2 linked regions of the Homo sapiens genome follow. The protein of the gene in region 1 purifies or fractionates together with the protein of each later gene. This does not show direct contact. Each region holds a gene or a part of one and is shown on either strand. Other genes may lie near its edges.

Region 1 (3,500 bases):
GAGAGAGGCAAAGACAGAGCTGTTGAGCATTTCACACCCTGGAAGGCGTGTTAAGCAACTTGGCTCTAGCCTCCAAATCTGGTCGCCACGTGTCACAGCTGGGGTGGAATGTTTGGGGGTGAAGTTGAAAGGGTAAAAGTGATTCAGAGATGAGGCAATCCTCCTGAACGGCGTCTTTGGTATCTTGAGGCTGTTCTGCTTCAAAGCAGCTTAGGCCTCCGGGGGTGGGCATGAACTGAACGTCAAGGGACTGGGTGTGGTCTGAAACCTGGAAGTCTAGGGACTTGTGTGCATGGCACAACAGCAGGGATGCACTGTTCACACAGTGTCAATCTGCCCCTGGGACTGTGACAGCCTTGCCTGAGAGGACAGAAGTCTTGGGCCCCCCATTTAAAATTCCTAGTATTCTGCTTAGGAAAGCTGCTCTATGATGAAATGATAATAGGAATAAAAACAATGTACAAAAGGACACGTTGACTCTGGCTTTGAGAATAGGAATTCAACATTCAACTCTGGAGACAGAGTTCCTTGTGATGGGAGCGCCCATCACTGTCACTGAAAGAAGAGGAAGAAAGTGAGGGATCTGTGGAAGGCCGGGAAGGAAATCTTAAAGAGGTCACAGGGTTGCTGAATTTTCCAAGACCCAGGCATGGATTTCTCAGGGGGCCAGGTTACAGGAAGGTAGAGCTCCAGGTGGTGGTGGGTACTAACTCAATACTTCCTAGCAGGACAGGCAAGGTCTTGTTACAGGAAACTCCAAAGGACCATCCACATTCCTTTCTATGAGGGAATTTTGCTGTATCAAAGGCTGCTTGAAATAAGAGTCTGTTTACATAGAAAGGAGGGGAAAATTGTCTGGTCCTGCAGGCATTTGTTGAAACGGCATTGACTCTCACAGGATTTGATGAGCTGACAGAGTGAGGCTGGCCTCGTTTATAGAAGGCCAAGGTAGTAAAACAGAGAGTAAGCTGGGCTTGGAACTCTATCTCCAAGTCCAAACTATCCTTTGCTGTTTCAAAACCACAGAACCACAGGCATACTGCAAAATTTGAGCTTGGAACTCTTCAATCTGTAACATGGGTATCAGAATGAACATCAAATGTATCTTATGGGACAGTGTTTGTAGAAGAGCCTTGTAAAACAATACAGTATTATGTAGATACATGGTATCATTACTGCAGTATTGCATAATGATTATAACAAGTGGTGACTGTTGGCCAAGATGACTCTCTCCAGCTATAAAATGGCATCTCTCTGTAATACCATGAGGATGCAAACATAGCTTCAGTTCTAAGAAGCTAAGAAGGTTCTAAGAAACTTGTTCCCCTTAACAGAAAAAGAAAAAGAGCAAGGGGTCCTTTGCAGTCATTTGATTAGCAATCCCAGAGCTGGAATTGCCCCTTGGTTTGAGCTCTCCCGCTTCAGCAGTCCTGAGAATGGCTCACCGTCACCACCACGTAGAAGCACCAAATCACCGAGGTGAAATGAAAGACGACCAGCTGTCCAGATTCATTGAACTTGCTGTGTTTGACTTTGGAGAGATGAAGCCGTTTGCTGATTTTCTAAAGAATAAAGAAAACCCCTCATATTAATATACAAATGTATCCATATTGGGCAGGTTTCAAACTCTTGTATTCTCCCCACAGAAGGGTTGAACATCGTTAGAAGTTTGCAGCTGGCCATAATCCAAGTCATTTGGTGTAAGCCTACTGCGTGCATACAGTGCTTGGTCTAAGGCAAGCATTTTGAGAAAGTGGCAAGATGAATGTCTCTAGCCTATGTGTAAAGAAAATAACCCCAATTACTCAATGTGCCCCAGACCCATAAGGACACCATCTCCAGACAGCTTTCTCTCTGTGTAATAAATACTGCTGTCCCATGTGCTGATTAAAGGAGGCTGTGAACAGAAACCAAAGTGTGGTGAAGGAAGCCCAGGCAATAGACCCAACCAGTGCAAGCAAGTTGGAGGATGAATGGGTGCAGAGCTGCAGTTTCCTCCAAGGCCAGGTCCTCCACCCCAAGGCACCTCCCCAGCTTCTGATCTCAGAATCCAGACATGTCACTTACATCTAAAATGTACTCCTGAACCACAGCATGCAAGATGATGGTGATGAAGATGTAGAACAAGATTGTGACCAGGTCCTTAGGGCCATAGTGGTAGTGCACGGTCTCACTGTCTGTGGAGGTAATAAAAGTCCCATCAGCATCCCTGGGGGAAGGAAATACTCTGGGACCCAAAACTGAAATGAGATGGGAGGCGAAATGCGCCATCAAATGCTACCCGTTTGCTATAGCCTCAGACTCAGAAGAAGGTTTCTGCCCCAGAATCCTGCCCACCCTCTGGTCTTAGCACTTGGAAGCACCAATGGAGATGGCTAAGGAGAACCAAGTGCATGGCTGTATTGTCATAACAGTATCTCCTGAGTCTGTGCAGCAGAGCACAGTGGTTATAACAGAGCCAGGGTTAGAGACCACCAATCCCCATCACTGGCTCTATCACTCCCTAACTGTGTGACTGTGGATAAAGGACTAACCTCTTTGAGCCTCAGTTTCCTCCCCTGTAAAATGGGACTATAGTTATGCTTTCTCAAGAAAGCACCGCGTAAGGGCTAAATGTGGACTCAGAAGCTGGACTCTTCAGTTTGTATTGCAGCTCTGTCCTATGTGACCCAGGGGTATCTCCATGTGTGACTTTTCTGTACCTCAGTTTTCTCATCTGAAAAATGAGGACAACATTTCCTGCATAGTAAGTTTATTATGAGAATTAAATGAATAAATGCGAAGTGCTTAGAACAGTGTCTGGCACATAGTTAAGTGCTATATATGCACTTGCTATTATTTTTGTTGTTGGGCTAGTGCAAGGATCAAATGAGATAATTTGCTTACAACAGTACCAACAATTTACAGTAAGTCTGCAATAAATGGTGGCTTATTAAAATACAATTAAATAGTAATAAATTAGACAACATCCCAGGTATAGAAATCTTGTGAAACTCCGCCATTGCAGCCTGTGGACAGAGGAGAATCTGCATCCTTGCTCCAGTCAGTGGGCAGCAGGCTGCGGGGCTGTGAGCCTGGTGGCCGTGTGCCTGGGTCTGGGCTGCTCTCTGCAACCCCCACCTCCACCAGGCAAATGGCTGCTCTCCAGCTGTGCTGCATTCGCTCTGAGTCACACACACATGAGTCATCTCACTGCTGGGATGCATTTACCAGAAGGTAGCCAGGCTCAGTTTGTTTCAGGGTGGCCAGGGAACAAAGTCAAGCTGATTGGGTCACTCTGGGAGTCCACCCTAATCTCAGCCACCCTAGACTGGGAGAATGTAACGGTGGGCAGTGGTGAGGGGGTGGGAGGAGGTGGCGAGGACAGAGAGAACATGATCTTGGAAATCAGACAAACTTTCCTTTTTCCTCTCCCTCTTCCTTTCCACAAAGACCTATTCTGTGAGAGGCACTGGGCTAACTGTTGAAACATGGAGATAAAAGACACCACCCCCGGTTGG
Region 2 (3,500 bases), on another chromosome or scaffold:
GTGAGAAACTGGGAGTGGGATTCTGGTCATGTATTAGACATTTATCTTTTAAAGAAATGCCAAACTGCTTTCCAGTGTGGTGGCACTTTACACCCTCATTTAACTCCCACTAGCAAAAAAACGCAGGAGACTTGCAATTTCTCTACAACTTCACCAACCCTCGGTGGTGTCTGTCTTGTTGATGACAAGCATTCTCCTGGGTGTGTGGTAGTATCTGATTGTGGTTTTTATTTGCAGCTGCCTGATGTAGAATGATGTTGAGCATTTTTTTCCATGTGCTTATGTGGCATCCATATATCTATACATCTACATCTACCTTGGTAAGGAGTTTGTTCAAATCTTTTGCCCATTTTTTATATGTATGTATGTATTTTTATTTATTTTTGTAGAGATGCTCAGGCTGGTCTTGAACTCCTGGCCTCAAGCAATCCTCTTGCTTGGCCTCCCAAAGCACTGAGATTATAGGTGCTTCCCATTGTGTCCAGCCCTCTTGCCCATTTGAAAAACTGAGTTTTCTGTTTGTTTATGTTTTTGTTTGTTGTTTTTTTACAATTGCACTTTGAAAGCTCTTTGTGTCTTTGTGTATTCTGGACATCAGTCTAAGACTTGAAAATATTTTGTTTGCCTGTGGCTTGCACAGGAATGAACACCTGGCTTTATTGTGCATTGCTTTACTGCACTTCACAGATACTGTGTTTTTTCACAAATTGAGGGTTTGTGGTGACCCTGGTCAAGCAAGTATGTCGGCGCCATTTTCCCCGCAGTGTGTGCTCACTTCAATTGTCTGTGTAAGCAGCTTTTAGCAATAAAGCACTTTTAATTCAGACACATAGTTTTTAGACATAATGCTGTTGCACACGTCATGTAAACGTAACTTTTATAAGCACTGGGAAACCAGAAATTCATGTGACTTGTTTTACTGACATGTTTACTTTATTGTGGCTTTCTAAAACCAAACCTGCAGTATCTCTCATGTGTGCCTGTATTTTTATTTTCTTAATGGTGACTTTTGAAGAGCAAATATTTTCAATTTTGGTAAAGTCCAAACTATGATTTTTTTCTTTAATAGGCAGTGATTTTGGTGTCAGATCAAAGACAAGCTTTGTCTCACTAAAGATCACAGAGATTTCATTCTATGCTTGTTTCTAGAAGTGTTCTATGTTCAGCTTTTAAGTTTAGGTGTCAGATGGATTTGGGGCTAATTCTTCCGTGGCGAATGAAGTGATCCTGGGTAATCTTTGTACAGGTATGAAGAACTCAATCATTCTTTTTTCTTTTCCATGTGGATATCCAATTGTTCTAGTACCACTTGTTGAACTATAATTTCTCCCTATTTAATGATTTTAGTACCATTATTTAAAGTCAATTGACCATAAATGAAAGCTTTAACTTTGGACCTTTCTTCTGGTCCATTTCTCTATATCTGTCTCTGTCGGTGCCACACTGTTTTTATTACTGTAGCTTTATGTCTCTCTCTCTGTCAGCGCCACCTGTCTTTAGTGCTACAGCTTTATAGTAACATTTAAAGTCTGGTTGTGTAAGTTCTCCAATTTTATTTTTTCTCAAAATCATTTGGCTAGTACAGTAGCCTAGGTCTTTTGAATTTGCATATACATTTTAGGACCACCTTGTCATTTCTGCTAAAACAGAAGCCTGCTGGGGTTCAGCAGGGATTGTGGTAAATCTGTAGATAAGTTTTGGGGAAAATTGCCCTTTTAATAGTATTTTTTTCCAATCTATGAATGCTGTACACCTTTTCACTTAATAGAGCGTCTCTGACTTCTCTCAGTCATGGTGTGTAGCTTTCAGTGTACATATTTGCATAAGGTTTGTCAAATTTATTCTTTTTTTATTAGACTATGAAAGGAAGTTTTAAAAATATAACCCGGATTTTTCATTGCTGGTGGATAGAGATGTGCGAGCGTGTATTTTAATATGTGCCCCACATCCTTGTTAAGTGATTTAATTATCTTAACTAGGTCTTAAAACATACTTTTTAGGTTTCATTGTCTGCAAATAAACACAGTTTTATTTTGTATTCTCTGTGCCTTCATTTTCCCTGCTATGCTGGGCTGGCCAGAATGTGACTGTGATATCAGAAGTAGGAGGAAAGGGCGTCATCACCTGTGCCCAGCCTCCAAGAGAGGGTCACAAGCCTTTCACCAGTAAATGTCACGTCAGGTACACAGGGTGCTTTCCTATCATTCCTAGGTCACTGAGATTTGTTAAAAATCATGAATGGGAACTTGCTGTTAACAAACCCTTTTCTGCATTGATTGGCATGATTGCGTGGTTACCGTTCTCTATTGGACTAACGTGCTGAGCTGTAGTAATTGATTCCTAGGCCTTAAGCCACTGCTTACCCCTGGAGTGATATCACTTGGCCACAGTGCACATTCCTGCCCCGTGCTGCTCGATTTGGTTTCCCAAGGTCTTATCAGTGATCTCTGCCTGTGTTTCCTGAATGTACTGGCTTATGAATATCTGGTTTGGTGTCAGGTTGATAGTGGCATTGCTGAATGAGTTGGGAAGTGTTGCTTCCTTCTCTGTTTTCTGAAAGAGTCTGTGTGTAGGTTGTATTGTATTTTTTCTTTAAATCTTTGCTGGAATTCATGCATGAAGACTACAGGGCCTGGGATTTTTCTTCACTGGGAGATTTTAAATTAGTAGTTTAGTCTCTTGGCTGTTCTATGTCTATTTAGACTTTCTATGTCTTCTTGAGTTAGTTATAATAATTCATGTCACTTAACCGGAAAGGGAACTAACTTCCTTAAGTTAAAAATCATGTTTCAGGCCAGGTACAGTGACTCATGCTTGTAATCCCAGCACTTTCGGAGGCCAAGGCGGGCGGATCACCTGAGGCCAGAAGTTTGAGACCAGCCTGGCGTGTTAAAACCACATCTCTACTAAAAATACAAAAATTAGTCGGGCGTAGTGGCATACATCTGTGATCCCAGCTACTTGGGAGGCTGAGGTAGGCAAACTGTTTGAACCCAGGAGGTGGAGGCTACAATGAGCTGAGATTTCACCACTTCACTCCACCCTGGGCAACAGAGCGAGACTCTGTCTCAAAAAAAAAGATGCAAAAAGCACATTTCAACTTTGGAAGATGTATCGTGCAGTATAGAAATGTCCAGGAGACTCAGTTCCTTTCCTATCTTTGCACTAGGAAGTCCGTGGTGCATGACTGGTGTTTATGTTCACAAAGACACATAGACACACCCATGCACAGAGCCTCACACACAGACACACACACAGCAGAGTCCATGGGCTGCATCGGCCCTGAAGTAAAGGAGCATGGCTGAGAGGTCCCAACCACCGAGTGACCTTAGACATTGTCCCAGGCCTGGAGAAATGGAGCAGAGAGACAGGTGGTACCTGGAGAACTCCTTTGTCCATTTGCACGTATGGATCTTTCCTCACTGCTTGATGTTTTGAACTCTCTTCTTTGCGGTTATTAATGAGATACTCAAAGGTGGTCATCTTCTTGGCCTCTGGAA

The links.
Region 2: the proteins of TRAM2 (region 1) and ZDHHC11 purify together in Homo sapiens (co-immunoprecipitation; one large-scale study listed by IntAct). This does not show direct contact.

Annotation. Positions count from the first base shown.
Region 1 is NC_000006.12:52,514,561-52,518,060, forward strand, and holds part of TRAM2 (translocating chain-associated membrane protein 2), read right to left. Parts: intron 2,178-3,500; coding exon 2,068-2,177; intron 1,563-2,067; coding exon 1,446-1,562; intron 1-1,445. UniProt on the Homo sapiens protein: Necessary for collagen type I synthesis. May couple the activity of the ER Ca(2+) pump SERCA2B with the activity of the translocon.
Region 2 is NC_000005.10:833,987-837,486, forward strand, and holds part of ZDHHC11 (palmitoyltransferase ZDHHC11), read right to left. Parts: exon of another isoform or gene 3,495-3,500; coding exon 3,379-3,494; intron 1-3,378. UniProt on the Homo sapiens protein: Endoplasmic reticulum-localized palmitoyltransferase that could catalyze the addition of palmitate onto various protein substrates and be involved in a variety of cellular processes.